7 separate regions of the Homo sapiens genome follow, and regions 2, 3, 4, 5, 6 and 7 are each linked to region 1. Evidence: fine-mapped expression QTL. A gene starts in region 1. Each other region holds a variant in brackets. All regions are shown on one strand. Distances are from middle to middle.

Region 1 (4,409 bases):
AAACCCATAAACACAAACGCACCAAAAAATAAGGCCCAAATAATCAATGACACTTACTAGTACACCAGCAGCAATGGAAGCAATAGTATTGCGCTTTTCCCCCCAGTCAATGCATTCTGAGCATCTCAAGCCCTCTAGAAATCCAGACATTTTTTTCAGGTCACTTAAAAACAAACAAACAAACAATTAAATAAGTACTTCCATTTACTTGCTTCAAGCCCGAAAAATAATTAATAGCTCAGGAATAATTAGATAAAAGTGAAATTACAAATGCTTTATTTTGGTTCCACATACTTCTTCAGAATATTTGATTTAGTTTTTGATGAATTTCCACATTATAACTTTGGAAAGTAATATCTGGATTCATTTAGTATCTTTTTTAATGTAAAAAATGGTTTGGGGGCCGGGCGTGGTGGTTCATGCCCGTAATCCTACCAATTTGGGAGGCTGAGGTGGGTGGGTCACCTGAGGTCAGGAGTTTGAGACCAGCCTGGCCAACATGGCAAACCCCATCTCTACTAAAAATACAAAAATTAGCCGGGGGTGGTGGCGCATGTCTGTAATCGCAGCTACTTGGGAGGCTGAGGCAGGAGAATCGCTTGAACCTGGGAGTCGAAAGTTGCAGTGAGCCGAGATCGTGCCACTGCACTCCAGCCTGGGCGACAGAGCAAGACTCTGTCTCAAAAATAATAATAAATAAATAGAAATAAATGGTTTGGATATATTTAAGCAGTATTAACAAAGGTGGGTCTCCAAATATTGAAAAAATTTTAACTACTGGTTGACCTCCTCCTGAAAATCTGTCACATCCTATTATTTCTAAGTAGGTATTAAATTAGTTTAGGTGGTACTTTTAATACCAAGTATATGATTACTAATCCACAGGAGCTCTTTTGTATCATTTTGATTCCAAACTTATTAAATGAATTTGATATTTACAGTCCAGGAGCACTAACATTAGTAGAGAGACAAGTGATAAACTTTGGCTCTGAGTGGAATTACAGATTCAAATGAAAAATATTTCTCTAATTTACATATTTTATCACAGAACGTGTGTTTCTTCACACCTAAATCAAGAAATTAAACACTGCACTGCAGTTCTTACCTCTACCCACATCATTTCCTTTCACTTCATTCATTATTTTTCTTTCTGCAAGCCTGCCTTTTGGTGTCATTTCTATATAAAGAACATCCACTTTAATATCCCTATCTCTGATCCTAACGGGTGTTTCCAGCCAAAAGCAAGCACAGAATCGTGGTTAATAGTAATTCAGATTACAAAAATCCAACTGCTATTTAAATATAGCCGACCCAAGCTGTCTTTACAAATTATATAAAACATTCCTGTAAGCCGAGCAGTAGAGACCTGAGATACAGCCATGTTATCTCTATTTCAGAGTATGAAAAAGCCTGAAATACATATAACTTGCGAATAACAACACCCAAACTCCTACAGCGAACTTGACTTCCTTAAGATACTTTGTAGCCAGCAATTATGGTTGTCCAAAAATATGACACCCTACAATAGAGCAACGTCTCCCATTTTTAACTTCTCTTTTAAAAATTAAATATTAAAATATATGATTACAGCCAATGCTAAGATGCCTTTGGGACAAGTTCAATTTAGGAAATTCACTCATTTGATTCTTCCCCGGGAAGAACTGCAATTCAATAAGTGTTATTTTCGGTTCATCCCAATGGCCCCACCCCGAATCCATTTTTCTTTGCACGACGACTGGTACGCTCAAGCCAGACCCCGCCCTCCAAACTCTGGGACTTTTAGGTCTCGAGGGACGCCGCTGGAAGATGGGGGAGCCACCTTTAGCCGGGGCACCCCTCGCTGAGGGAGCTGGCCGGGTCACGCTCCTTTCTCGGGGCTTCGGCTTGTCCAGCTGTGAAGTGGGGGATCGGGGGATTTTCCAGGGATCCTGGGGTGTCCCGGGGGAGGGCGCGGTCCCCTCTCCGTCTTGGCGGGGTCTGGACGCCGTCGCCTTCTCCTGGCGCCGCCGGACCCAGGAGAGGAGAGGTCCGCGGCGGCTCAGCCCGGGTCTGCGGCTTCCGGGAGGGTGGCGGCAACGAGCCTGTGCTGTGGGCACCAGCCCGTCAGACGGCCCCGGCTCCGAGGCCTCTCCAGCCTGCGGCCGCTACTCTCTTACCCCCACTCCCCGCCCGACACTTACGTCCAGCCCCGTCGTGCAGTGGTTCCGGAGCCCGGTGTCGCGCCGCGCCGGCCCGCCTCACTCCCCCGATTTTAGCCAAGAAAACAAAACGGCCACAGCCTCCAGACACCCGGATGCAGCAGTACCATCCACCCGGCTCAGTCGCGCATGCGGACACGGGGCGGAGGGCGGGGCGCCGGGTCCGGAGGGAGCCACGCCCACCACAACAACGCGTCTGCGCATGCCCGGGCGCTGGGTTCAGGGGCTTTCCGCCGCTCTGGGTTCACAGCTGGACGTCGGGAGTGCTAGTTTGGAGTACGCCATTTGAGAGTAGGCGTGAGAAGTTGCTCTGTGTGCTGAGCGTTCTAAAGGAAGGCGTCCGTTGGCCTTCGTACCCGTCTTGAGTGAGGTGACGAGTGTTTTCTAGTACTGGGGTCGGCCGCGCAGCCCTCTCAGGGGTGGGTGGCAGGAAGAGTGCCGGGTCCCGCGTGGTGCAAAAGGTGGGTTCAGGTTTGCGGCCACACAGCGCTACTCAGGACTTTTTAGTCTTGTTTATTTTCTCCGTGCCTGTTCCCGCCCCCCGCAGCTCCACCTCTGGGAGAGGGGCGGGTTCAGCTCCAGGAGGCGGGGACTTCCCGGCTTGGCGTGGCTGGGGTGTCCCGTGGACCCCAGTCTCGGCGCGGTGACCCACTTATGGGACTTGGCCTTTCTTTGTTGTTTGTTTAAGGCAGGGTTTCTCAGCCTGGGCACTACTGAGGTTTTGGGCCGGCTAATTCTGTCTGGGTTGGGGAGGGTGCTGTCCCGTGCTTCGCAGGTTGTGTAGCTGCATCCCCCGCCTCTACCCAGTGGATGCAAGTAGCAGCCCCAGTGAACCAAAAATGCCCCCAGACTTTGCCAAATATCCCCTCCCGGGGAAGATCGCCTCGCTTGAGAACCACTGTTGGAGGAGAGCCTGGGTTTTCGGGAGGTAACCGTTTACAAAGGGGAGAACGGTAAGAAGCCGGAAGCAACGATGACTTAGCTACGTGAAAGACTTGCGGCCGGGCTCGCCCCTCTTCTAGAAGCCGTCAGTTTGGGTCTCGCGTCTGGAATCACCGTCAAGGAGTCAGATCCAGCCCCGGAGAGGGAGCAGGGTCGAGGTCTCCTTGCAGAAGGCGCCACCGCAGGAAGCACAGGCGCAACGTGCGGTCTCCCTAGCGGAGGCGCTCGCGATCCTGCAGCCGCCGGTCCGGGAGGTGCTCGGTAGCCCTCCTTGGTGCCTGTCCGGTAGCTGGTCACTCTCGGGGGAAGGTCGTGTGCAGAAGGGCACATGCGATCACACAGAGACGGCGTTGCTGCGGCTTTGACCCGATGGTGCACCCGAAAGAACACAGAGGGTGAAGGGAGAGATCCAGGAAGTGGTCGCGGAGCAGAACCCCCCTTCACTTCAGTTAAAAAGGTGGGTCAATTGTCGTTAAGAGATACGCACAGGTTCATCTGATTGACATGTACGGCGGCAGTATATGAGTGGGATGGGAACCAAGGTGACTGTTGTTTCCTTTGATGGATGAAACTTTCATCCCTTTGGGTTTTTTTGTTTGTTTTTGGCGGTGCATTAGCCGATTAGTAGATAAAACTGCATGACAATCTATAGCCTGTTTTTAAATGGACACGTTCTTACCACTCAGGAGGTTTATCGTGATTGTTTAATGTCTCAGGGTGGAGGAATCTAGTGCAGGCAGTTCTTAATGAAACCTTTTAAATTCCCGTTAGTGACTTAACATTAGTTTACCAGCTCTGAGCAGCTTTAAACAAACATCCTCTTTTAATAGCTAATGAGTGCGGGAGAAAAGATACTAACTCCTTTCTCTTTGCGTTTTTTGCCCCTACCCTTTTTTCTCTTTTCTGGCCTTAACATGATTGTCAAATATTTATAAATATGAGTGAGCATCTTTATATTACTCTTACTAATAAGATACATGCTTAATTTGTCATTCTTTACCTTTTTGGGACTTAATGAATGTTTGTCTTTTGTAGATAAAATGGAGCTGCTAGAAATAGCAAAAGCCAGCCACCCATATTAACCCCTCCATTTTCCCTATAATTAATGGCTTTCATTATTGTGGTATATTTGTTACAATTACTGGACTAATATGATACATTATTATTAACTGACATCCACATTTTATTCAGATTTCTTTAGTTTTTTGCCTAATGTCTTTTTCTGTTCCAGGATCCCCTCCAGAATACCACATTACAGTTAATTGTTAT
Region 2 (4,409 bases), 92 kb after region 1:
ATTTTTCTGTCCACTCACACAGCTTTATGAGAACTTTCGGCAAAGGTTTCTGATGGATGGGCATTGTATCTTCACTGTCTTGAGATTTAGAGAAGAAACTGTTTAAGAACTACTTCCATCATGATGCATCCTCAGGAGATGTGGATGAACTGCGGAGATGTGGGGTGAAGATGAACAAGAGATGAGTGAGTTTGTGTCTCCCTCTAAAGAAAGTGGCTTTTGTCAAAATGTACTTGTAAAGAAGTGTATAGGCTGGGCAAAGTGGCTCACGCCTGTAATCCCAAAACTTCAGGAGGCTGAGGCGGAAGAATCGCTTGAGCCCAGGAGTTGGAGACCAGCCTGGGCAACACAGTTAGATCCCGTGGGTAAAAAAGTGCAAAAATTAGCATGGTGGTGCATGCCTGTAGTTCCAGCTCTTCGGGAGCCTGGGCTGCAGTGAGCCGTGATGGCCCCACCACACTCCAGCCTGGGCGAGTGAGACCCTGTCTCAAAAAAAAAAAAAAAAAAAAAGGCAATTAACCCACAATTTTCAAGGCAATTGTTATGCTTTATTACAAGAAGTGTTTGAAATGCATCCCATTTGTAGATCCCTAGAAGTAAAATAGTCACCTTTGTTTACACTCACACCAAACACAGTTTTTGGAAGAGATATCGCAGACTTCATTATTATCCCCAGATTAAAGGTCAGTTTTGAGTCTTTTTATTTTGTCTCGACCTTATTACCTTCCTAGCCAAAACATGGAAGTAAAACATCTTTTCTACGTTAATACTGCATTTCCAGGGGTCTTGGGGTGTTCCGGGGGAGGGTGAGGTCCCCTCTCTGTCATGGCGGGGTGTGGACGCGGTCGCCTTCTCCTGGCGCCGCGGTACCTAGGACAGGAGGAAGAGGCCAGGAAGGGTCCAGGGAGGCTCAGGCCGGGTCTGCGACTTGCCGGTGGGTGGCGGCAACGACCCTGTGGGCACCAGCCCGTCAGACGGCCCCAGCTCCGAGCCCGGCTGCGAGCCCTCTCCAGCCTGCAGCCGCTCCTCTCCCGGCCCTACTCCCCGCCCGGCACTGACGTCCAGCCCCGCCCGTGCAGTGAGGCCAGAGCCTGGTGTAGCCCCACGCGGGGCCGTTCCATCTTCGAAGTTTTCTGGTGACTGGGTCGGTCCCGCAATTATCTCAGATCAGGGGGGAAGCCAAGGGCAACGGGACACCCTGATGTATCAAACACCTCCCCCTGGAGCCCCATCGCGCATGCGCACCCTGGAGGCAAGCGCTCGAGGCACAGGGCGCGGCTTGGGGAGGGAGGAGGCAGGGCGGTGGTTGGGCAAGAGAAGAGCCGCGCCCACCACGGAACATCTCTGCGCATGCGCCGGGGGCCAGCTTCTGGTACTTTTGACGCGTCTGCTAACGTAGTCCCTCAGTGCGCATCCGGACGTAGGAGGTGGAGGTTGTGGAATTCGCCGTTCGAAAGCAGGGACTAAAAGCCCCACTTCGTCTTACGTTCCGAAAGGAAGGCGTCTGTTGAGCCTTTCTCTCAGTCGTGAGGGAGGCGTCGACGGCGTGCGGTAAGTTTTCTGCTGACGGGGTCTCTCAGGACCACCGCAGTGGTCTCTCAGGAGTGAGGGACGGGAAACGTGCCGGGCCCCGCGTTTGGGGAACGCAGCGTTTCGCTTCAAGGCCGCGGCCTCAGGGCGCCGAGCGGGGTTTCTAGGGCTCGGTTCCTGTCGCGGCGGTCGCCGCCCGCGCCGTGGCTCCGCCTCCCGGAGGTTCCCCGACTGTGGCTTCCGGGTGGCCAGGCGCCGGCTTCCGCGACTCGACTTGTTTTTTCTCTCTTGGTTTTTTAGGAAGTCCTGAGTTGAGGCTTGCGGGATCCTTTCCGGAGAAAGCGCAGGCTAAAGCCGCAGGTGAAGATGTCCAACTACGTGAACGACATGTGGCCGGGCTCGCCGCAGGAGAAGGATTCGCCCTCGACCTCGCGGTCGGGCGGGTCCAGCCGGCTGTCGTCGCGGTCTAGGAGCCGCTCTTTTTCCAGAAGCTCTCGGTCCCATTCCCGCGTCTCGAGCCGGTTTTCGTCCAGGAGTCGGAGGAGCAAGTCCAGGTCCCGTTCCCGAAGGCGCCACCAGCGGAAGTACAGGCGCTACTCGCGGTCATACTCGCGGAGCCGGTCGCGATCCCGCAGCCGCCGTTACCGAGAGAGGCGCTACGGGTTCACCAGGAGATACTACCGGTCTCCTTCGCGGTACCGGTCCCGGTCCCGTAGCAGGTCGCGCTCTCGGGGAAGGTCGTACTGCGGAAGGGCGTACGCGATCGCGCGGGGACAGCGCTACTACGGCTTTGGTCGCACAGTGTACCCGGAGGAGCACAGCAGATGGAGGGACAG[A/C]TCCAGGACGAGGTCGCGGAGCAGAACCCCCTTTCGCTTAAGTGAAAAAGGTGGGTGGGTCATTTACCTTTCCATTTGTGGTAATGTATGGTGGCAGTATATGAGTAGGCTAGGGAACCAACGTTGCTGTGTAGTTTCAATATTAGTTCCTTTAGTGCCCGAAATCTTTTTGGAGGAAAGAGGGAGGACATTACCTGTATTTAAGTGGACAGCATTCTCTTTAGGGTTAAAGGTCAACTGGATGTTAAATGGCTCAGGATGTAGGGAACTTTTTTTCCTATTGGCTGACTGTTCTTAGTGGGTGGAGCCTTTTAAATGTTATGATTAAGTTAAAGGTTCTAAGTTAACGTGATTGGGAAGAACAATATCAAAACACGCCTTCTTTTAGTTGACATTATTACTGAATAAAATTGGATTGTCGAGTATCCTAAGTGACCTAGGAGGCCGGGCGCGGCGGCTCACCTCTGTAATCCCAGCACTTGGGGAGGCGGAGGCGGAGGCGGGTGGGTCACTTGAGGCCAGGCGTTCCATACCAGCCTGGCCAACATAGCTCACTATCTAGTAAAAGTACAAAAATTAGCCGGGGGTGGTGGTAGAAATACACTTTAGTAGTGTATCAGTATTGGTTCAGTGGTTGTGATAATTATATAAAGAATCTACAGCAGAAAAACCTGGTTTTCAGAAATACATCTTTGAAGAGAAAGCAAAATAATATCACTATTAGCTAGAGAAAATTAAGTACAACAAAAAGACAAAATAATAGGACGCTCAGGCCTTTAGTCAAGAAAACAAAACTAATTGTTGAGATAATTTAAGAATTTTATTCTTTTCAGCAAGAAATGAGCTGGAGAATAGAATTTTCAGTGAATAAAGTTACACAGTTGTCCCTCTGTTCACTCGGGGGATTGGTGCCAGGATGCATATGGAACCCTCGCGCACACTTGGGGTTTACAGTCTCTCAAACACTGTGGTACTTTCTATCTGCATTTAGTAAGGGGGAGAAAAAACAAGTATAAAGTGGACCAGCGCAGCTACTAGTGTTCAAGGGCAACCTTAGTTTACCTATTATAAAACAAGTGACTTAATATATTTAATACCACAAAATAACATATTTATTGTGTAATTCTGAGTTCTCTTGGGAAATAACTACCAGATTAATGAGTATTTTAAAATCTCTCTCTTTTTTTTTTAGATCGAATGGAGCTGTTAGAAATAGCAAAAACCAATGCAGCGAAAGCTCTAGGAACAACCAACATTGACTTGCCAGCTAGTCTCAGAACTGTTCCTTCAGCCAAAGAAACAAGCCGTGGAATAGGTGTATCAAGTAATGGTGCAAAGCCTGAAGTAAGTATTCTAGGTTTGTCGGAACAAAACTTTCAGAAAGCCAACTGTCAAATCTGATTAGCCACTTATATCTTAGACTATACTTTTTGGGAAGTCTAGAGATGTATATAATGTGCTAAATTCAAAGTAGCAAATCTGAAGATAGGCAATGTCAAACCCATGAAAATGGGAGATTAATGAGCTTTATTTGGCCGTGCATGGTGCCTCATGCCTGTAATGAGGCAGATGGCTTGAGTCCAGGAGTTCAAGACTAGCCTGGGCAATGTGGCAAAACCGCGTGTTTACAAAAAATACAAAAATTAGCCAGGCATGGTGGTGCATGCCTGTAGTCCCAGCTGTTTGGGAGGCTGAGGCAGGAGGATCTTTGAGCCTAGGATGCTAAGGTTGCAGTGAGCCAAGATGGCACCATTGCACTCTAGCCTGGGCAGCAGAGCGAGACCCTGTCTCAAAAAATACATTTATTTTTTTCATTTTCAGTTAACAGTGTACTCTTATAACACCGTTATTAGCTGGTACTTTGGTGATTTCTATTACTAGTTTTTCTAAGCTATTTACAGAGTGTTTGTAGCTTTCATTTGCAGCATTATGTTCCCACAAATTCTGTACTCAGCATATACAGTATAGTTTATCTGCTCTATTTCTGTCTTATAGAAATCATGAATGTGGTCTGCAGACATTGATGAAGAAAATCTGTTGGTA
Region 3 (4,409 bases), 150 kb after region 1:
GGCTGAGGGCATTTCTGAAGCATGTGTTCAGCTGGGAGCCCCTGACTTAATCCTCAGAGGTTGCTGGTCTGTCGCTCCCTGAGGGCCCACGGGGCAGCCAACTAGTTCCTTGTTATGCACAGCCTTAGTACCACGTACAGCACCATCTCCATCTGTGTCTGACAGGTGGCTTCTGTCACCTCCCTTGCCACCCAGCTGGGATCGCCACATCCAACCACGGGACTTGGGACACGTGGGAACTTCGGATTTGGCCACAGCGTCTAAGTTGGTGTGCTCAACTTCATTCAATCTTCAGGCATTTCATGAGCCAGCAGCATTAAAAATCAAATTATAGGCCAGGTGCGGTGGCTCACACCTGTCATCCCAGCACTTTGGGAGGCTGAAGTGGGCAGATGGCTTGAGTCCAGGAGTTTGGGACCAGCTTGGGCAACATGGCAAAACCCTGTGTCTACAAAAAAATACAAAAATTAGCCAGTCGTGGTGGCACAGGCCTGGGGTCCCAGCTACTCAGGAGGCTGAGGTGGGAGGATCGCTTGAACCCAGGAGGTTGAGGATGCAGTGAGCTGTGACAGCAACATTGTGCTCCAGCCTGGGTGACAGAGTGAGACCCTGTCTAAAACAAAACAAAACAAAACAAAATCAAATTATATGAGCTTACAATTGGATTATATTTAAAAAGACAATAAGTATTCAAAACTCCCCACGGCCTAATGATTTTTCTACATTTTGCTATTATTATACTCTTGAGGTTATTTTACCTGGTGTTCAGTGACTTCACTTAAGTAGCTTGAAATTGGCTGTGGTGGGAGTATTTACACCACAGAAACTGGCAAACACTACACATCACCCAATCCACCCCATGAGCTTGTTGTTAGACATTTACTAGCACACCACAGCTTCTGCCTGCACTATTAAGAATCTCGTTGACAATGGGTATGTACTATTTCAGAGAAATTATGAGACCAACAGCCTCATGTGCTCAGGAGTGGGTCTTCCTAAACAACTGATTTCATTTCTAGCTCCTGGACTTGGAATCATGTTAATATCCCTCCTCTTCTTTGCCTTCACTGCTAGAAAACTTAGAAACAAATTTGAGTCCCACCTCTAGCAGGTAGCATGGCTTATATTCTGCATCCTGACACCATTTCTAGTACCTTATTTTCCTCCTTGTGTTTCTTCTTTTACTTGTCATCCCCTCCCCTTTTTAAATTTTTTTCGATTCTTTGGCTGCGACAACGGAAGAGATGATTTAGTGTATATGTGTTACACTCAGCCACCACTGAGAACAGAACTAGTCCAGGCTGTCCCAGGTCCAGGGCAGAGGACAAAAGGGACTGCTTTGGTGACCAAGGGGGATCTCTTAGAGGTGCTCTTGGTGATCAGATGGCGATGGATGTTCTGGATCCATTGAAAGACAAGTTGTAGACAGTAGCATGCAGTCCAACGGTTGTACCAGTGTCCTCAGCCTCTGGCACTCCCTCTGCCTCCATGGGTACACAGGCTTCCACCTCTGCCCCATCTTTCTTCTTTTGCGTTTTAGCCTGTGTTTGGCTCTCATGGCAAGTAGGTTTCTAAGAAGGTGGCACTAAGGCTAAGAGAACATTTAAAACATGTTATTTATTTATTTATGGCCGGGCGCGGTGGCTCATGCCTGTGATTCCAGCACTTTGGGAGGCCACGGTGGGCAGATCATGAGGTCAGGAGTTTGAGACCAGCCTGGCCAACATGGTGAAACCCCGTCTCTACTAATAGTACAAAAATTAGCCGGGCGTGGTGGCGCATGCCTGTAATCTCAGCTACTCGGGAGGCTGAGGCAGGAGAATCACTTGAATCTGGGAGGCGGAGGTTGTGGTGAGCCGAGATTGTGCCATTGCACTCCAGCCTGGGCAACGAGAGCAAAACTCCGTCTCAAAACAAACAAACAAACAAAAACCCCACGCCATATTATTTATTTATTTATTTATTTATTTATTTATTTTTGAGATGGAGTCTCACTCTGTCGCCCAGGCTGGAGTGCAGTGGTGCAGTCTCTGCTTCCTGCAACCTCTGCCTCCCTGGTAAGTGATTTTCCTTCCTCAGCCTCCTGAGTAGCTGGGATTACAGGCGCATGCCACCATGTCTGGCTAATTTTTGTATTTTTAGTAGAGGTGGGGTTTCGCCATGTTGGTCAGGCTGGTCTTGAACTACTGACCTCAAGCAATCCGCCCACCTCGGCCTCCCAAAGTGCTGAGGTTACAGGTGTGAGCCACCATGCCCAGCCTATTATTAACATTATTTTAAGAGATGGGGTCTTGGGATGTTGCCTATGCTGTTCTCAAACTCCTGGGCTCAAGCAATCCTCCCACCTTAGTCTCCCAAGTAGCTGGGACTACAGGCACATGCTGCCATGCTTGGCTTCCCTTTTTATATTAAAAAAGTAAAAAAAATTGCTTTTATATAGGAAGATACAAAAAAATTACAACAACTTTTATTACAGCTTTGTTGAGGTATAATTGACAGATAATAAACTGCACATATTTAAAGTGCTCCATTTGATAAATTTTAACATATGTATGTACCTGTTAAACTATCACCACAATCAAGATAGTGAACGGCTCCATCACCCCTAAAGGTTTCCTCA[C/T]GTGCTTAGTAATCCATTCCTCCTGTCCCCAGGTGATCTTGATTTGCTTTCTACTAAGATACATTAGTTTGCATCTTCTGGAATTTTGTATGAATAGAGTCTATAGTATGTACTCTTTGTTTTTTTTCTTTTTCAGTCTGATTTCTTTTTTGTTTTTTGAGATGGAGTCTCGCTCTGTCGCCCAGGCTGGAGTGCAGTGGAGCTATCTTGGCTCACTGCAAGCTCCGCCTCCCGGGTTCACGCCATTCTCCTGCCTCAGCCTCCCGAGTAGCTGGGACTACAGGTGCACGTCGCCATGCCCGACTAATATTTTGTATTTTTAGTGGTGACGAGGTTTCAACATGTTGCCCGGGCTGGTGTCAAACTCCTGAGCTCAGGCGATCCGCCTGCCTTGGCCTCCCAAAGTGCTAGGATTACCAGTGTGGCCACTGCACCCAGCTCTTCATTTTTATTATTATTTTTTTTGAGAGATGGGGTCTCACTATGTTGCCCAGGCTGGTCTCAAACTCCTGGGCTCAAGTGATCCTCCTGCCACAGCCTCCCAAAGTGCTGGGACTACAAGTGTGAACCACTGCGCCCGGCCCTTATTTTTATTTTTATTTTTTGAGAGATGGGGTCTCACTATGTTGCCCAGGCTGCTCTTGAACTCCTAGGCTCAAGCAATCCCCCACCTCAGCCTCCCAAAATGCTGGGATTACTGGTGCGAGCCACCACATCTGACCTAATTTATTTCTTTTTATAGCTGAATAGCATTCCAGCATAAGGGTATATCCCAATTTGCTTATCCATTCACCTTTTGATGGATAGTTCAGCTGTTTTTAGTTTTTGGCTGTTATGAATAAAACTGTAAATATTTGGGTACAAGTCTTCATGTGCACATATGCTTTCATTTTTCTTGGGTTGGTATCTAGGAGTGGGCTGCCTGGGTTGCATGTTAGATGTGTGTTTAACTTTTAAGAAACTGCCAATTTCAGTTTATTTTTTTATCATACAGTATGACCTTGGACAAAAGCCACCGAGCATGACCTTTAACCTCTCTGGGCCTCAACTTTGCTTAGAACTCAATGATACAGCTTCTGTGGGATTCTACCTTCACAGAACTGTTGCAGGACAAATAAGCCTTGTCTTTGAGAAGACGCTTAGGGCTCTCAGGAAGGACAGAGACCTCCAGAGAGCCAGGAGGTTCTTATTGCCGCCGTCATCGCACCCTCACACCCTTTTAATTAGATCGCTCATCTCCCCTGTGGACCTGAGGGTGCTGGGGGGGGAGCGGGGCGGGGGCTACTGTAGATTCCCTCCAGATTTTGTGCTGCCCAACCCTCCCTGGCCTCTGAATGGTGCTGATGCTGTCATAGGTCATAAGGCCTTTGAAGACAGATGTGAACACCTGCCAGTTGGCGCAGCCCTTGCTAAGTGGATGCTTTCCTCCTGTGGTGTGTGAAATGTCCGAATCAGGTTTCTATACCCCCAAGTCAGCTGGTGACCCCTGTCCCTGACCCAAAAGCAACAGGCAATGTGAAATGGCAAAAACCACCCAGCACCCCCCTTCAACACAGCAAAACCCTCCAACATCTAAACAACTTGCTTAGATGTGAGTTTTTTTTTTTTTTTTTTTTTTTTTTTGAGATGGAGTCTTGCTCTGTCACCCAGGCTAGAATGCAGTGGCACGATCTTGGCTCACTGCAACCTCTGCCTCCTGGGTTCAAGTGATTCTCCTGTCTCAGCCTCCCTAGTAGCTGGGATTACAGGTGTGTGCCACTGTGCCCGGCTAATTTTTGTCTCTTTTTAG
Region 4 (4,409 bases), 130 kb after region 1:
GGCAGAGGTTGCAGTGAGCCGAGACTGTACCACTGCACTCCAGCCTGGGCCACAGAGCGAGACTCCGTCTCAAAAAAAAAAAAAAAAAATGTGCTTCTAAAATTGCCTTGCACATAGTAAGGTGCCATAAGTGTTAGCTCTGATCCTCTGGGGTAGCTAAGGTCTTGGTACTTCTGCTGTCCTCGATAGCTATAACATCCTAACCAGCAAGGAAGCAGGGAGGAATGGCAGCTGGACAAGCAGGACCTGTGTCTGCCTCAGTGTGTCCTGCCAGGGAGGGCCCCCATCTTGCTCTGTGTGTCTTTCTCATTGCTCACAAACAGCTCTGCAGCGAATGTACCACAATTGCTTTTTCATTAGTAGCCGCAGCATTCACATCCGGTAGCTCTTGACCACTGAGGTTTGCAGTTAATGGTGGCCTCGCACACTGAAACATGAAGCTGAACAGTTTACTCCAGCCTTGTTAGGTTGGAATCAGCCACTTGAATAAAGAACACCACTTCATTACCTGCTCTTGGGTCAAGCTGAAAGGAGAAAGAGCATCTCACCAGATGTCCCATGTGCCGGGGCTTCAGTGTTCTCAGGGATTCCAAGTGTGTTCATTCCAGAGAATTCTCAATCAAAGCGCGACCCCAGGCAGACACATTTTCACACCAGCATCCCCACAGCATGTGTGGAAGAAAGGGGGGTTGGATTTGTGTAGATCTAAGTCAAACTAATTAGCTGTCAGCTGCATCACATCTGGAGATCAAATATAAATTTTTGGCCTCAAAAACCATTCCGGTCCCTGTCATTTCCGTTCTCCTGGTACCAGGCCATCTTTTGTAGCATGGCTCTAATATGTTTCTCTATGCTGCCAAAACCCTGCAGCTTGCTAAGCATGGACTCCCAAGTCATCTGCCATTGGTGACTGTAACACCCTTTTACTTTGTGAGAGGTAGAGTTAGAGACCCAGGTCTTTTGCTGGGACAGATAGGTAGGAGTGGGTAATTTCACTTCCGGCATGTCGGAATGCAGTTTTCATGGGGAAAACAGAAGTGCTTTTGTGGAAATTTTGAATGCACGGTGGAAACCAGTGACAAATTTGGGTTAATGTAAATATGATGTGAGAAATGAAAACCAGAGGTGAGCAGGAGCTCTCAGCTTTAACAAGAGGCTTTCATTGTTTTCTACCATGTGTAGCAAATATTTAACAGTTGCCTATTAATGGGGTCCTTCACCACTGATACAGTTCTGTGTGTCCAAAGATCACAGACTCTGGGGTCTGACACGAGCTGATTTTGACCCATCTCCTGCTGAATTTCATCAGCTGCCTCAGCTTGGATCGGGTGTAGATTTTGCTTCTCAGGAGAGGTCTGTGCGTCTGGCAATGGGAGAGTGGCCAGAGAACAGAGCCAGCAGCAGTTTTATTCTATTTAGATTATTTAAAGTGTTTTTCCCCTGGTGGAAAATAATATGTTTCTGGTTTAACTTGATTTTAAATCACTGCCATGTTATTGTAAATAATGTGACACCTCATTTCTTGAGAGAAGCTTGGAATGTGGTTATGGAATCCCAAGTATATGAATGACAAATTGGCTTTGTGAATTTGATTCTTCTCCATGGCAAAAGATAACGCAATTTTTTGTATATTCTAAAATCAAAGCAATATTTGGTATGGGGTACTTCTAGGAACTTCCCACTAGGGGGCAGTGTACTTTCAGGTTTTTTTTTAACATGCAGCCAGTGGTTCCCATAGTGTCGTCCCTGGAACAGCAGCACCCAGGAATTTGTTAAAAATGTGAATTCTCTGGCCTCCACCCAGACCTACTGAATCAGAAGCTCTGGCAGTGGGGCCCAGCAATCTGCTTTTTATTTTTATTTTTATTTTTTTGAGACAAGGTCTCACTCTGCCGCCCAGGCAGGAGTGCAGTGGCGCGATCTCGGCTCACTTTCAACATCTGCCTCCCTGGTTCGAGTGATTCT[C/T]CTGCCTCAGCCTCCCGAGTAGCTGGGATTACAGGTGTGCACCACCACGCCCGGTTAATTTTTTATTTTTTATTTATTATTTTTTTTTTTTTTACGGAGTCTTGCTCTGTCGCCCAGGCTGGAGTGCAGTGGCACGATCTTGGCTCACTGCAACCTCCACCTCCCAGGTTCAAGTGATTCTCCTGTCTCAGCCAGGTTCACGCCACCACACCCAGATAATTTTTGTATTTTTAGTAGAGACGGGGTTTCACCATGTTGGTCAGGATGGTTTCGATCTTTTGACCTCGTGATCTGCCTGCCTCGGCCTCCCAAAGTGCTGGGATTACAGGCGTGAGCCACCAAGCCCGGCCTGTAAATAACATTTTATTGGAATACAGCCTCACTTATTTGCATATTGTCTGTGGCTACTTTCAGCTTACAGTGGCAGAGTTGACAGATGGCCTAAAATATTTACTATCTGGCTCTTTACAGAAAAAGGGTTAGATAGATGCAGAGGTTATTTAGCAAGGCCTTGAGGAATTGGGTCATTAGCTCCAGGAGAGTTGAGGGACCCAAGGTGGGAGACCTTGAGTACTGAAGTGGCCAAGAATGTTTTTGGGGGGTGGGGAGAGAGTAGGAGCAGCATGGAGGAGATAAGAGGCTTGGGTGAGGCGTGGAGAGGGGACATCGAGAGGCTTTCAATTGCTATGCTAATGCCCTCAAATACAAATACCAACCAGAAAACCTACCAATTAGGATCACCTTGACTCATCTGTAAATAACAACTATTTATCCATCTGTAATCAATGAAGATGATTCCTGTTGGGATTTTAATTTACATCTGTTTTAAATTTTCATGCACTTTCTTTCAAAGGACTTGTGAATGTGCATATTAAAGTGCAGAGAAAAAGAAGACATTTGCCAATAAAACAGAATGGACCACATTACACAAAACTCTTTGCATTTATTTCCATCTTTAGTACCAGCTACTGCACTGGAATTTCTTTCTTTTTTTTTTCTTTTTCTTTCTTTCCTTTCTTTTTTTTTTTTTTAAGACAGAGTCTCACTCTGTTGCCCAGGCTGGAGTGCAGTGATGTGATCTCGGCTCACTGCAACCTCTGCCTCCTGGCTTCAAGTGATTCTCCTGCCTCAGTCTCCTCAGTAGCTAGGACTACAGGCATGCATCACCATTTCTGTATTTTTAGTAGAGACAGGGTTTTGCCTTGTTAGTAAGGCTGGTCTCGAACTTCTGACATCAGATGATCTGCGTGCCTTAGCCTCCCAAAGTGCTGGGATTACAGGTGTGAGCTACTGCGCCCGGTCTGGAATTTCTTAAGCAATATTTTCCAGGTGTTTTGAGCCTATTTTGTGCTGGGTAATTTTCATATATTGCATTTATTGAATTTCCACAATACTCTGACAAATACACATCAATTCTTCTATCTTTCAGAAGAAGGCAACAGCTCAGAGAAGTCACGTAATTCTCAGCTGGGCGCGGTGGCTCACACCTGTAATCCCAGCACTTTGGGAGGCTGAGGCAGGTGGATTGCCTGAGGTCGGGAGTTCAAGACCAGCTTGACCAACATGGAGGAAACCCATCTCTATTAAGAATACAAAATTAGCTGGGTGTGGTGGCTCATGTCTGTAATCCCAGCTACTTGGGAGGCTGAGGCAGGAGAATCACTTGAACCTGGGAGGCGGAGGTTGCAGTGAGCCGAGATCATGCCATTACACTCCAGCCTGGGCAGTAAGAGCAAAATTCTGTCAAAAAAAAAAAAAAAGTCAGGTAACTCTCTAAGGCAGGCCAGCTGGACCCTGAATTTGAACCCCATGAACCAATCTTGGCATTAGTCAGAGCTGAGTCCACGGCTCCGAGCTTCCTCCGTCTTGAATGTCTTCCTAATTGTGCTGTGCTTGGTGTTCTTTTTATAGGCTGGTAGCTAGGCCTTGCAGTCTTACTTACATTATTATATTATTATCCTTCCTAGCAGAACCCTAATTAATTAATCATATAGAAATGGTTCCTTATTTAGTCCGTTAAGTTAAATTGAGGCCTTTAGTGAGAGGAGCCAGAAGCCTTGGCCCAAGTGTAGCAGGTCCCAGTCCGCGGGACTAAACATCTGAGAGACACGGGACAGAGTGACCAAGGGCGGGAGGCTGCTCTTCAGAACAGATGTACCTGCAGCTTGCCATCGTCGGGCCATGGGAAGGAAACGAGGCAAAAAACAAATGCATGGTCAGGACAATTTGTTAGATCCAGGGCTAGTTTTTAACTCTCAGTGTTGGCCTGTAAACACATTACCCTGCCTAGGAGTGGGCTCATGATCCCACCCAGAGACTGACTTTGACTGCTGGAAAAAGGTCCCTTTTGTAAGCAGAGTCACACTAGGGCATCTGGAAATAAATGTGCTGGGGCATGTTGGTGTTTTATTCCCCAGCGTTCTATGTTTGTTGTCTTGGGAAGT
Region 5 (4,409 bases), 120 kb before region 1:
TCTCGGGTTCAAGTGATTCTCCTGCCTCAGCCTCCTGAGTAGCTGGGACTACAGGCCTGCATCACCATGCCCAGCTAATTTTTGTAATTTTAGTAGAGACAGGGTTTCACCATGTTGGCCAGGATGGTCTCGATCTCTCGACCTCGTGATCCACTCGCCTTGGCCTCCCAAAGTGCTGGGATTACAGGTGTGAGCCACCACGCCTGGCCTGTATGCTTTTAAAAACTAAAAGGGTAGAGACTTTACAGGTAGCCAAAAGTAAACATAAGTGTTAAAAAAAAAAATCACAAGGACATCATTTGATTTTCAATACTAGAAGGCAGGGTCAAATTCAGGTGACTAATTTAATCTTCTTGCTGCCTGAGGGGTACTGTCACCAGCTATTCCTTGAAGATTGGTTCACAAACACTCTGTCATATATAAATTCTGTCATACATAAATTCAAGAATCATTTAAATAAGTATCCGATATGATCAGTGCCAAGATTTGGTTTGTATCACCAAATTAAACCAGCTGTACTTAGAACTCTAATCTCTGGGATAGAAAGTTAAATATTTTCATTGAACTTACCAGCCTGCCTAACATCATTTCAAAGCCTCTGCAAACACTGTCAAGCCCATATAAGTTTCACTAACATGAAAATGTATCAATTTATAATTAGTCTAAATGTGGTCTCACTACAAACTTACGGTGACATGTTTTACTGACCAAGTTCATTTAATTTACTTGTTTGTAAAAAGACTAAAAATACTGGAAACAGTATTTTTTTAGTTGATTACTGTTTATTTTGGTTTCTGCCATAAATATTAGTAAAAATTGGTGTGTTTAGGAGAAACATACATTAGGTGGTAAGTTCCACAATAGATCTAAATAAGAACCAAGCTCATTTTTCAAAAATGTTTCATGGTTAAGATTAAATGAATAATATCTTAATATTCATTAACATAAAGAGAAATAATATTCATTCAAAAATTATTAATAATATTCTCTTACTTTTATAAATAGGCTAAGGAAATTCTAAATTATTTTAAGTTTCATGAATTAGCCATATATTTCATCAAGACCTTCTGGAATCATTACCTGATTATAATAAACATAGCTAACATTCATCAGACACCTATGTGCTTGGCATTAAGTTGAATACATGTATCACTTCAGTTCCTTTTTCCCATGACCCAGTGAGGCAGGTAAGAAAACCATGGCTTAGAGGCAGTGACAAGGCAACACAAGCTGTCAGAGGACAGAGCTGGGATTCACTCATCTGCCTGAAAAGGGGGGGCTCATGGTCTTTCCAACCATGCTGTACTGCTTTCTGGATCCATGTAAAATTTCTAAGAATAAATTTACAGTTGAACTTAACATTCTACAGTGAAATGAATTATAGACAAAGAATATATATAATACTGGCTGGGTGCACTGGCTCACACCTATAATCCCAGCACTTTGGGAGGCTGAGGCAGGTGGATCACTTGAGGTCAGGAGTTCGAGACCAGTCTGGCCAATATGATGAAACCCTGTCTCTACTAAAAATACAAAAATTAGCCAGGTGTGGTGGCACGCGCCTGTAATCCCAGCTACTTGGGAGGCTGAGGCAGGAAAATCGCTTGAAGCCGGGAGGCAGAGGTTGCATAACCAAGATCGTGCCACTGCATTCCAGCCTGGGTGACAGAGCAAGACTCCGTCTAAAAAAAAAAAAAATATATATATATATATATACACACACACACACACACACACACACACACACATATATATACATACACACATATACACACACACACACATACATTTATGTAATACTTACCAGTGAGCAGCAAATGGACGACAAAGGTCTACATGAAAGTTTTTGAGATCTTTAAATCTAATGGCTGCTTCAATATAAACAAAGAGGATCCAGAGAGACACTGTAGGCAAACACACTCCCCTTTCTGTGAGAAAGCAGCAGAGAGGCAAGCATTAATAAACGATATAGTAACTAACAGATGGATTGTTTGGGAGACTAATTTGACGACAGTAACTTTCATTAAGACCTTCACCTAAACTAAATTAAAAGGCAAACTGATCCAAACTGAAAGCTTTTATATGACAAATGATTCCACAGAATCGCTGACAAAAATAAAAGACAAACATCCTGGCAAAAAATATTTACAATGTATGTAAAACAAAGGATTCATAGCCCTGACATACAAAGAGCTCCTACAAATCAATAAAAAGCTAACTAAAGAAAATAATTTACGAGTCACAAAAGAATACAGATGGCTAAAAAACATAGAAAAAGATGTTAACTACTGATTAGAGAAATACAAATTAAACCAATCAGATTCCATTTTCTTAACTATTAGATAAAATTTTTAAAGACAGATAATAGCATAGGGAGGGTATGGGCAAAGGTTCATTTTCATACTCGGCAATAATATAAATTGGGACAACCATTTTAGATAGCAATTTGGCAGTATATTTAAATTTAAATACTTGTACCTTTCTTTTACCCAGAAATTCCACTTCTTTTTTTTTTTTTTTTTTTTT[G/TG]AGGGAGTCTCACTCTGTCGCCCAGGCTGGAGTGCAGTGGCGTGATCTCGGCTCACTGCAAGCTCCGCCTCTCAGGTTCAAGCAATTCTCCTGCCTCAACCTCTCAAATAGCTGGGACTATAGGCGCCCACCACCACGACCGGCTAATTTTTTGTATTTTTAGTAGAGACAGGGTTTCACCGTGTTAGCCAGGATGGTCTCCATCTGCTGACCTCGTGATCCGCCCACCTCAGCCTCCCAAAGTGCTGGGATTACAGGCGTGAGCCACCGTGCCCGGCCCAGAAATTCCACTTCTAAGAATCTACCCCATAGAAACATAAAAGAGTCTTGAGATAAATACATAAAAATATTCACTGGGCTGGGCGCAGTGGCTCACACCTGTAATCCCAGCACTTTGGGAGGCCGAGGAGGGCGGATCACCTGAGGTCGGGAGTCAAGACCAGCCTGGCCAACATGGCAAAACCCTGTTTCTACTAAAAATACAAACATTAGCCGGGCGTGGTGGCAGGCGCCTGTAATCTCAGCTACTTGGGAGGCTAAGGCAGGAGAATCGCTTGAACCCGGGAGGCAGAGGTTGCGGTGAGCCGAGATTGCATCATTGCACTTCAGCCTGGGCAACAAGAGCGAAACTCCATCTCAAAAAAAAAAAAAAAAAATTCACTGTAGGGCCAGGCGTGGTGGCTCATGCTTGTAATCCCAGCACTTTGGGAGGCCAAGGTGGGTGGATCACGAGGTCAGGAGTTCAAGACCAGCCTGACTAACATGGTGAAACCCCATCTCTACTAAAAACACAAAAATTAGCTGGGCATGGTGGTGCACACCTGTAATTCCAGTTACTCGGGAGGCTGAGGCAAGGGAATTGCTTGAACCCAGGAGGCGGAGGTTGCAGTGAGCCGAGATTGCGCCACTGCACTCAAGCCTGGGCAACAGAGCGAGACTCTGCCTCAAAAAAAAAAAAAAAACAATTCACCGTAATATTATTTGCAATAGCAAAAATTTAGAATTTAAATGTTCATCAACAGGAAACTGTTTATGATAAATCTATATAATGAAATATGTTGAAGGTTCCTAAAGAATGAGGAAGATCTGCATTGTCATGGAATGACATAAAAAAAATAATCCTTAAGTAAGAACAAGTTGTAGGACAAAGAAATGTTTCTGACACTTAAGTACTGTTCAAAAAAATTTTTTCTGAAGCACAAACTCATATTCCCTTTGTAATTAAAAACAATTTTCAAGGGAGGAAAAAGCAACTTGCAACAAAATAAGATGCAAATAAAGGCAAATGTCCACTGGCTTTTCGAATCAAAATCTGCAGGCTAGGTCCATCTATATCAGGACATGACTAATAACGGGATATTTATGAATGTGGACTACATGGGCACGAGGGGGAAAAAATCAGTGACCTGAAGGCTTTTTGCTAAGGATCTTTGGGATGAAACTAAAGAAAAATCATAGTATCTTCAAACTAGGAAGATCATTTTGTCTAACTTCCTCATTTTGTTGAAGAGTAAACCCCAGAGTTTAAATAAACTGGGCCCAAGTTCACAGAGACAGTACTAAATCTGCTTCTAAGGAGAACCTCCCTTAGTCCTAGTACCTGAGTGAAGTTGTCACTGGATGCTCTGTGAAGCCAGCTAATGGTCTCAACCACTCTTATGAATTTAACATATCAAAAATAGGTACTTTTTTTCCTTTTCTTTTTTTTTTCTTTTTTCTTTTTTTTTTGGAGACAGAGTCTCGCTCTGTCGCCCAGGCTGGAGTGCAGTGGAGTGCTGGAGTGCAGTGAAGTACAGGTGCAATCTCAGCTCACTGCAACCTCTGCCTCCTGGGTTCAAGCGATTTTCCTGCCTCAGCCTCCTGAGCAGCTGGGATTACAGGCA
Region 6 (4,409 bases), 22 kb before region 1:
ATATGGCAGTAGTGAGTCCTCTGTCTTTGGAGGCATTCAAATAAAAGCCAGATGGCCATTTATCAACAATCCATGTAAAACGTTAGATGAAATAAAACCTATATATCCAAGATCTCTTCCAATTCAGATTTTATGAAAGAATTTCTAAGGTCTTTGTAATGAGACATTTAGGCTGTTTCAAGAGATCAAGCCAAAATCAGTATGTGGGTTCATCTGCAATAAAAATGTTTGTTTTGCTTTTACAGTTTCCTCATTTGGCTGTTGGATTTTAAGCAAAAGCATCCAAGAAAAACAAGGCCTGTTCAAAAACAAGACAACTTCCTCTCACTGTTGCCTGCATTTGTACGTGAGAAACGCTCATGACAGCAAAGTCTCCTTATGTATAATGAAACAAGGTCAGAGACAGATTTGATATTAAAAAATTAAAGACTAAAAACTTAGTTTAAGAGTCAATTTAATAAGTTTAAAATAAATGTTTAGTTTCATTAGGATGATGCTATCAATATTTTCTTGGTTACAGACACATTATTAAAGTTTTGGGTTAATTTTATTGACAATTCTTAAGATTCTTTCTCATGCTTAATAAAGCATGCTACTCAGTTAACTCTTGTCTACATCAGCAAAGCAGATAATACAAAACAGGAAAATTACAAATCACTGATACTTAGTCCTTGTGGGAATCATGCTTTTCTCCCAGCAGTTTTACAAGGTGGCTGGCATTCCCTGAGCATATTCTGAATTGCACTGTGGGGAAAGAGGTTGTGCTCAGTTGTAGGGTGGGGGGATGCACTGCCTGAGGATTAAAAAACTAGTTCTGTGACCGTGAGGAAGTCGTTTAAATTTCCATGGTCTGTTCCCTCCTATGTGAAAAGAGAAGGTGGGCTTCAACCTCTAAGATCTTCTCCAGTTTTCACATTTTATGGACTTTTGTAGAAAAAACATCAGGAGTTCATGTGGGATGACAGCAAGTCATTTCTTTGAGGAGAGTCTTGATCACCAGGCAATATTCACAGTGTAGAGACTGTCAGATGACCATGGCTAGCATGGAAATGAGACCCACACATTTAAATCACCCAGCAAATATTCCGAAGGCTAATTGTAGCACATTTTATGAAAGACATTTCAAACTGTGGTCCTGAAGAGTGTATCCCATCTTGCAGAGGTGGGGAGCCTGGGGGGACAAGAGTTCTGAAGAGGAAGAGACAACAAGAGTTCCCAGTAGCTAATGTTTGTCATTCTAGTTGACCGTGCTGGTCTATTAGGCTAGTGGTTCAGTACACAGATGAAATGCAACATGGAACCCAGTTTATTATCAGAACAACTACAAAGAAATTGTCCCCTGTCTAAGACTGGAGTGTCAAGTCTCTGCCCTTTTTTCCTTTCCTTCAATGGTGGATGTGGAGTGACTGTGCATCCCACCAGAACCACGTGTCATGGCTGAGTCACATCTTCCTGCCCTTGGAATGAGAGGCACAGCGGAAGACCTTCCCATGGAAGGGACACAGGGAGCCTGGTGGCTGGACCATGGTGCTTCTCTCTTCCAACACGTCCACTCACCCCTTGGGAGACCCTCAAAAGCCAGTTACATTACATGTTCACAGAATTTTTGGTAAAAGTAAATACCAATTATAGTGAGGAAGAATTTTGACCACGGAATATTTTAAAAACTAAAAAATGTTTATATTTCATTTAACATTTGACACAGAAGAGACCACATTTGAATAAACACATTAAATCTTCAGAGCACTTTCATTGTGGTTTTGGACCTCAGATATGACAAATACTTACATTGACAAATCCATAATTTCTTTTGTAATTTCTTTTTATTTTTACAAATTATACCATGATAAAATTTGACAAAAATTATTCATGTGAAAGTTTCCTCTAACATTTTATAAGTTAATCAAGTGCATACCACAATAGATTTTTGGTTGTTGTTTAGGTGTTCTCGTGATTTTAGTATTACACAACTTTAAGCTGA[G/C]ACTACACTCAGAAATAAGTTTAGAAAATGGCATTACAAAAGGTTGGGAGTGAGCAGTAAAAAAACAAACAAACCCATGCAGGGCTGTTGTGCTGTGGGAAATCAGATGTGTTCACTGCCATAAGTCTTCAGTGCGGCCAAACTTAAAAACCAGCCCTCTGTGAATAAAACAAGAAATATCACATGACTCCCTGAATTTGAGAAAAGAGTATGTGAGATTTCGAGAATGGTGTGAAACAAACAACGAAGAATAATTGATGAGTTGTAGAAGAAATTTTGGTACGAAATGTATCAAAACAGAAACTGATCATTCTAAGGTAGTGAATTCTTCCATTATGTTCAACTGTGCTATTAACCACCATATTCCCAACAACCTTAACTTTCAAGTACTGAATACACATGTGACTTTTAAAAAGTTACCAGTGTTTACTATGTAACCATTATATGTCTGATTTTTTTTTTTTTTTTTGAGACAGAGTCTTGCTCTGTCGCCCAGGCTGGAGTGCAGTGGCGTGATCTCGGCTCACTGCAAGCTCTGCCTCCCGGGTTCATGCCATTCTCCTGCCTCTGCCTCCTGAGTAGCTGGGACTACAGGCACCCGCCACCATACCCGGCTAATTTTTTGTATTTTTAGTAGAGATGGGGTTTCACCATGGTAGCCAAGATGGTCTCGATCTCCTGACCTCGTGATCCGCCTACCTCGGCCTCCCAAAGTGCTGGGATTACAGGCGTGAGCCACTGTGCCCAGCCCTATACGTCTGATTTTATCAAATTCATTCAACAAACTGTTTTGGTGCCAGGGCTATAAATAAGATACAAAGCCACTGCCCTCAAATTGCTCTCATTCTTGCTAACGTGATGTGGTAAGTGTGGGGGTGGTTGGGGAAGGAGACTTATATAACAAGTATTAAGGGGGCACAGAAACACAGAATTCGGTCACCCTGAATAAGTTAGAAAAGGATTTACAGAGGTGGTAATATGTGAGATGGGCTTTTGTGGAAAAACAGGGGTTTGAATGGGAGATTGGTAGGAACAAGACCTAGCGGGATGATGAAGGCAGGTGTTTCGGGGACAGGAAACAGTACATCAAAGGGGAAAGAGGCATAAAAAAGCATGGGGCTTCTGGAAAAGCCCAGGAGACTAGTATGACAGGAATTTGCCCTCACAGAGCTTACAGTCCAGGGCAAGCTTGTCCAACCCACAAAGCATGGGCCACATGTGGCCCAGGACAGCTTTGAATGAGGCCCAACACAAATTCGTAAACTTTCTTAAAACATTATGAGATTTATTTTGTGATTTTTTTTTTTTTTAAAGCTCATCAGCTATTGTTGGTGTATTCTATGAGTGCCTCAAGACAATTCTTCCAATATGGCCCAGGGAAGCCAAAAAATTGGACACCCCTGGTCTAGGGTTTCGGTGAGGGAACGTCTACAGTTGTCCTTAAGGCTTCAATTTAAAAGAGGCAAGAGCGCAACTGTATGCATAAAATGATACCTGAGGTGTTAACAGAACAAGGAAGAATCCACCATGGCCAGATTATGGTTGGCCATGAGGAGGCAGGGAATGGACACAGCCAGGCTTTGGAAAGCCAATTGCCAAGGGTGGCAAATTACCCACAGGTGCCTTAGATGAGCCAGAGTGCAGACGCCTGCCTGCATGCTCTATGGGGCTGCCTGCCTGCATGCTCTATGGGGATGCCTGCCTGCATGCTCTATGGGGCAGCTGGTGCGCAGTCCCAGGCACCAAATGAAATGGGGGCTATGAGCCAGACACAGTGGCTCATGCCTGTAATCCCAGCACTTTGGGAGGCCAAGGCGGGCAGATCGCTTGAGCCCAGGAGTTTGAGACCAGCCTGGGCAACATGGCAAAACCCCGTCTCTACAAAAAATACAAAAATTAGTCAGGCATGGTGGCATGCGCCTGTAATCCCAGATCTCTGCTCTTCTAGTTAATATAGGATCTACTGCTGTAACAAAGAAAAACTGAAGTTGGTTATTAGAGGCCTCTACTGTCCAAATAGCTTAAAAGAGATGCTGTAACTTCAGAATACTCGTCACAAGATATGAACTCTAATCGGAAGAGTTTCCTGGGCAAGAGCCAGGGACCAGTCCCTCCTACACTGTCAAAATTACCTGGGGTTCAATCTGCTTACAGGATACAAGGTATAACCCAAAGAGGCTGTGCATCTTGTCACATCTAAGTTTACATTTTTATTTCCAAACTGATTTTACAAAATGGCAAAAATGCCTGGTGATGGAATAGAATAGGTGTGAATACCAACTGGTGGCTCTTTCTGAAGGGCAACTATTACTATTTCAAGAGGGCTTCAGTAAACATGGGATTTTTGTTTCTTTTTTGGAGGTGGGTGGGAAGGGAAGGGGAAGGAAAGGTCCTGTAATATACATCAGATTCCTAGCCTTTTTTGGAT
Region 7 (4,409 bases), 220 kb before region 1:
CATCTACTGACCCTACTACTGGCCTGTGCACCAACGGGCTGAGCCATCTGCTTAGAGACAAAGCAAGAGGGTGGAGGGATGCCAGGCAGACGGGAGCCTGCTGGACAGGGCTCTGGCCCGGATATCCTAGTTCCAGTTTAGCTACTACCTCACTGTGCAGCCTTAGGCAATTCCCTCTCTGGGCCTCAGCTTCTCCATCTGTAAAATGGACCTGAGCTGTCCCTTCCAGTTCTGAAAAACTACAACTGACCAGCCGAGAGAGGTGGGGATAGTCTGAGGCTCTAAGGGCTGACCAGAGGACCCACTAGAGAGACCATCTATACTCTGACTTCAGACCTTGGCTGAGGCCTCCCTGGAATGTCTGGCCAGATACCCAGAGCTGAGCTGCTGCATTCACAGCAGAAGGAAAAGGCAGTGACTCTGCAGTTCTCTGCTCCAAGCCCGACTCAGCGGCATGCTGGTGGGGAGTAGGGGGGAAGGGCACGGGTGGGCTCAGCTGTCTTCTGCAACTGGTGATGATGACAGCAGCAGCTGCCACTTAACCAAATGCTCATCATGAGCCAGGTGCCGTGCACTCCACGTTTCCTAACAGCGCTGTGCAGCAGGATCTGTTCCCACCCCCATTTTACAGATGAGGAAACTGAGGCTCCAATGTCACCCAGGTAGGAAGTGGTAGAGCCTGGATTCAGATGGGATACTCCACCCACTGCCCCAAGTGGCAGAGTGGATGGGCCAACCCCATGCTGAGCGTACCTGTATATGGACACGTTCTCAATGAGCTGGTTGGTGAGGTTGTCTGTCAGGATAATTCCCCGTGGCGACACCTTCAGAGTCACCTTCTGCAGCTTCTTCCCACTGGCCTTAGCCTTGGGAGCAGACAGGAGTCAGAGGAGTCTGCCAGCCTCACTTGAGACCCACCCTCATGGCTTACACTTCACTGTTCCTAAGCCCCAGGCACGGGGCCCATCTCAGCTCAGGTGACTGGCAGCAGTGTGGGCAAGACCACTCAGCCAGCACCTTCTTGCAATAGAAACAGGAGCAGCATCTGCTGAGCACCAGCTATCTGTCAGGCACCGTGGACCTGGAGTCATCCTCCCTCTCCCCAGAGATGGACTCAGAGAGGCTAAGGGACTTACCCAAGGACACACAGCTAGAAGGGCCTGCAGACTCGGCACTGAATGAGCTAGCACAACCCAGCAGGATGACTCCTGAGTACTCTGCTCCATCCATTGAGCTGAGGGGTCTGAGGCCACCAAGGGAAGTGGATTTAAAAGGCCCACCCTTGCTCAAAGTTAGGGAGGGGGCAATCTGCTCTCTGATGGGCTATGCTGTCTCTCAGGCCATTGGGCAGGTAGTCAAGGGAAAGCAAACTCCCCACCCTTCCTGGTGCTGATAAGTCACCAATGCATTGGTAGGGAGCCTGAGCTGGGGGTGGGGAGGCTGGAAGAGGCCATAATGGCTGGAGGGAAGCCACTAACCGTGACCTTGCAAGTCCAATGGTTCCCCTCTGCCAAGGCCCAAAAGCTGGATGGAAGGAGAATGAAGGGCAGGGCCAGGCTCAGACACACCCAACTGGAGTAACAAGCTGGGACGAGGGCACCCTGGGAAGAAGCTGGTCCTTGGTCCCTGGTTCCCCCACCCTTCCTGACTGGGGTGCTCACTGTAGCCACGATCCTCTTGATGGCGGCGGCCGACAGCTCCTCACCCTTGGGCTGCTCCACTAGCGTCATGCCCAGGTACTTGAGGCTGAACAGCATCCCCTCCAGCAGCGTCTCCCGCGTGTCTGTCCAGTTCTCAGGCAGCTCTGGGGTAGCACAGGGTAGGCCCTCAGACCCTGCGGCTCAGGGCCCACCACCAGCAACAGCTCTCACCAGCCTTCTTTCCTAGGAAACCCCAGCAAGGGGGATGGGGGTCTCCCCCACCACTACTGCCACTCTTTTTTTTTTTTTTTTTTTGAGACTGAGTTTCACTCTGTCACTCAGGCTGGAGTGCAGTGGTGCGAGCTCAGCTTACTGCAACCTCTGCACCCCAGGTTCAAGCGATTCTCCTGCCTCTGCCTCCCGAGTAGCTGGTCTCGAACTCCTGACCCCAAGTGATCTGCCCGCCTCAGCCTCCCAAAGTGCTGGGATTACAGGCATGAGCCACCGTGCTGGGTCTGCTGTCACTTTTAATAAAGGGCTAAAGCTTTCCGGCACATACCAAGGCTCCATGTAAGCAGCTTTACATAAAATGTTCTCATTAATCCTCCTAAGAACCTATGAGGTCAACGCTTTAATCAAACCCATTGACAGACAAAGACA[C/T]GGAGGCCATGGAGGCTCAATCACATAACCAAGTCCAGAGAGCCAGGAAGTGCAAGAGCCAAGTTTCGAGCCCTATTTTCAAGCCCTGAGCCCTCTTTACTTCAATGCTACCACTTGCTGAGGGCAAATCATACCATTTCTTACTGAATCCTTAGTGCAATCCTGTGAGACAATGATTCTACAGATTAGGAGACTGAGGCTCAGGGAGGCAAAGTCATGAGATGAAGGCCACATACAATGAGTCGGACTTCAACCCTGAGCGGTTCCCATGGCCCCAGCCTGCACTGCTTTCCTCCCTGTGCGCATCCGTAGAGACCAACAGGGGCATGTGGGAGGCTGGGCAGGAGACAGTAGCCCAGGGAGAGCAGGGAAGGGTAAGGGTGGGTGGGGAGAGGAGAAGGCGATTTCCCAAATCGGAGAAGGTTCGAGACCCACTCTGCTTCCCACCCCCTGGATGGTCCTAGGGAAGTCCCCTCTCCTCTTTGGGACTAACATTCCCCCCTCTCTGGGCTGTGACAATGGTGCAGAACAGAGTCCACAAGGAGAGTTCTCTAAAAGCACCAACCACACAAATGTCAGGAAATAAGGGGATGAGCCTGCCTCACTGGGTGGGCAAATGGACCAGGAGGGACACGTGGAAAGAGCGCCCCACCACGTAGGTGAGGGCCCCGTGGAGGCAAATGGGCATGAGGGCAAAAGCAGGCTGCACTGACAGTTTCTGACCATCCCCGGCTCCTCGGAAGGAGGACATGAAGAAAGATGAATGAACACCTCACACTTCCACCTGCCAGAGCCCCTTCCTGTCCCCTACCTCTCTGTCCCATTTTACAGAGAGGAAACCCTCACAGATGCTGTGCTTGTAGGAGGTGTTTGTTATGACTGCACCATTTTACAGATGAGAAAGAAAACTGCTCTTCAGCCTCACACACAATCTTGTTGAGGACAGAGCAGGATCCAGCCAGGAATCAGCTTCCAGGGGCCACGAGAGGTAGCCAGGGCCAGCTTCCCTAGACCATCCCCCAGGGAGGGGCTGGGAGATGTCCTGGGCCCTCCCTACCTCCTCCTGAGGCCTTCCTCACTGGCTCTGATTGAAAAGCCACAGGAAGAAAGTTTGGGTATTGCTAGTTCCAGGGCAGCTGAGGCTCTGGCAGGGATGTGGGCCCCTACTACAAGGCTCAGCTTGGTTCTGGAGTTCCGGCTCTGTCAAGAGCAGAAGTCTGGGTCCAGGTGGCATCACCAGGTCCCCTACCCAGTCTGGATCCCTGCTGCCCCTCTCAGCTCCTATCCTAGAGCCCTGGGCCTCCAGGGGCTCTGGTCCCCCTCTCCACAGCCAGAAGGAGCCTTGTACACCCACATTTCTCTGGATTTGCCTTGAGCAAGCCACTGTCCCTCTCTGAGGCCATTTCTTCATCTGAAAGAGGGTGCGGGTGTCAGGGCTGGGGAGGGTTATACAGGAACTTACAGATGTACCCAGTTCCCCTCATGTCTTGAGATCAGGTGAGCAGGGACTTACTGACTGTCATCTAGAACCTGGCATGCAGGTAGCGCTCAATACTCGCTCAAGGAAGAAATGACGAGGACAACCCCATCCCATCCCCAGCCCTGGCCCCAGGCCCAGTGACCCTCCAGCCCTAGATCTCATCCCTGGGCCTCCACCCCAACATGAGGCCAGGTCTCCACTGAGATGACCCCAAAGCCCAACATGACCTTATCCTCTGTCCCATCAACCACAAGCCTATTCCATTTGATCCTCCAAAAGAATGTGAAAGTCCCTGAGATGTCCCCAGTCCTGGGTTGAGTGATGGGGCCCTGGAGCAACTCAGACACAGACCCTGCTCTCAAGTTCAGAATAACAGCACCATCATCAGGGAAAAACAGCGCTTTCATATAACAAAGATGCAACAATAATAAAGCCATAGCTATTACCATCACCTCTAACACTCACAGCCACCTTGCAAGCAGGCATTCTCTCATTCCCATTTTACAGAGAGGAAACTGAGACTCAAAGGACTGACTCTAAAGCCCAAGCTCCTGACCATGAGACCATACTACTTTATCATGCAGCAAACTACCTTAATTCTAGCAAAAGATCAGGTTTTTGGAGGCGGA

Alleles and levels. Alleles are on the strand shown, and positions count from the first base shown. SD is a standard deviation of normalised expression in the study named. Not every link is listed here.
For the expression in monocytes after LPS of the gene that starts at base 2,303 in region 1, allele TG in region 5 goes with a lower level than allele G (moderate effect, 0.60 SD a copy in Kim-Hellmuth 2017).

The links. PIP is the estimated chance that this variant, and not a neighbour inherited with it, causes the effect.
Region 2: its variant is fine-mapped to the expression of TMEM50A in whole blood (INTERVAL, PIP above 0.99).
Region 3: its variant is fine-mapped to the expression of TMEM50A in whole blood (INTERVAL, PIP above 0.99).
Region 4: its variant is fine-mapped to the expression of TMEM50A in whole blood (TOPMed, PIP above 0.99).
Region 5: its variant is fine-mapped to the expression of TMEM50A in monocytes after LPS (Kim-Hellmuth 2017, PIP 0.93).
Region 6: its variant is fine-mapped to the expression of TMEM50A in whole blood (TOPMed, PIP above 0.99).
Region 7: its variant is fine-mapped to the expression of TMEM50A in whole blood (INTERVAL, PIP above 0.99).

Annotation. Positions count from the first base shown.
Region 1 is chr1:25,336,228-25,340,636 of GRCh38, reverse strand. It overlaps TMEM50A (transmembrane protein 50A), which reads right to left and starts at 2,303. Exons shown (of 7, transcript NM_014313.4): 1 at 2,181-2,303; 2 at 58-163. The coding sequence starts at 150. It also overlaps a transcript of RSRP1 not described here. RefSeq lists silencers at 2,354-2,473, 3,465-3,759.
Region 2 is chr1:25,244,451-25,248,859 of GRCh38, reverse strand. It overlaps RSRP1 (arginine and serine rich protein 1), which reads left to right and starts at 1,406. Exons shown (of 5, transcript NM_020317.5): 1 at 1,406-1,551; 2 at 1,831-2,416; 3 at 3,559-3,710. The coding sequence starts at 1,897. RefSeq lists enhancers at 1,166-1,890, 1,891-2,615. The variant A/C (reference allele first, on the strand shown) is at 2,367.
Region 3 is chr1:25,186,915-25,191,323 of GRCh38, reverse strand. No RefSeq gene overlaps it. Among named protein-coding and RNA genes, the nearest start is that of SYF2, 43 kb to the left of the region's middle. The variant C/T (reference allele first, on the strand shown) is at 2,621.
Region 4 is chr1:25,202,317-25,206,725 of GRCh38, reverse strand. No RefSeq gene overlaps it. Among named protein-coding and RNA genes, the nearest start is that of SYF2, 28 kb to the left of the region's middle. The variant C/T (reference allele first, on the strand shown) is at 1,966.
Region 5 is chr1:25,451,778-25,456,186 of GRCh38, reverse strand. MACO1 (macoilin 1) reads right to left here. Exons shown (of 11, transcript NM_018202.6): 4 at 1,805-1,928. Among named protein-coding and RNA genes, the nearest start is that of MACO1, 23 kb to the right of the region's middle. The variant G/TG (reference allele first, on the strand shown) is at 2,527.
Region 6 is chr1:25,358,390-25,362,798 of GRCh38, reverse strand. TMEM50A (transmembrane protein 50A) reads right to left here. Exons shown (of 7, transcript NM_014313.4): 7 at 438-2,139. The coding sequence ends at 2,094. It overlaps RHCE (Rh blood group CcEe antigens), which reads left to right. Exons shown (of 10, transcript NM_020485.8): 10 at 246-550. The coding sequence ends at 272. Among named protein-coding and RNA genes, the nearest start is that of TMEM50A, 22 kb to the right of the region's middle. The variant G/C (reference allele first, on the strand shown) is at 1,982.
Region 7 is chr1:25,551,317-25,555,725 of GRCh38, reverse strand. It overlaps LDLRAP1 (low density lipoprotein receptor adaptor protein 1), which reads right to left. Exons shown (of 9, transcript NM_015627.3): 2 at 1,662-1,804; 3 at 754-866. Among named protein-coding and RNA genes, the nearest start is that of LDLRAP1, 9.9 kb to the right of the region's middle. The variant C/T (reference allele first, on the strand shown) is at 2,301.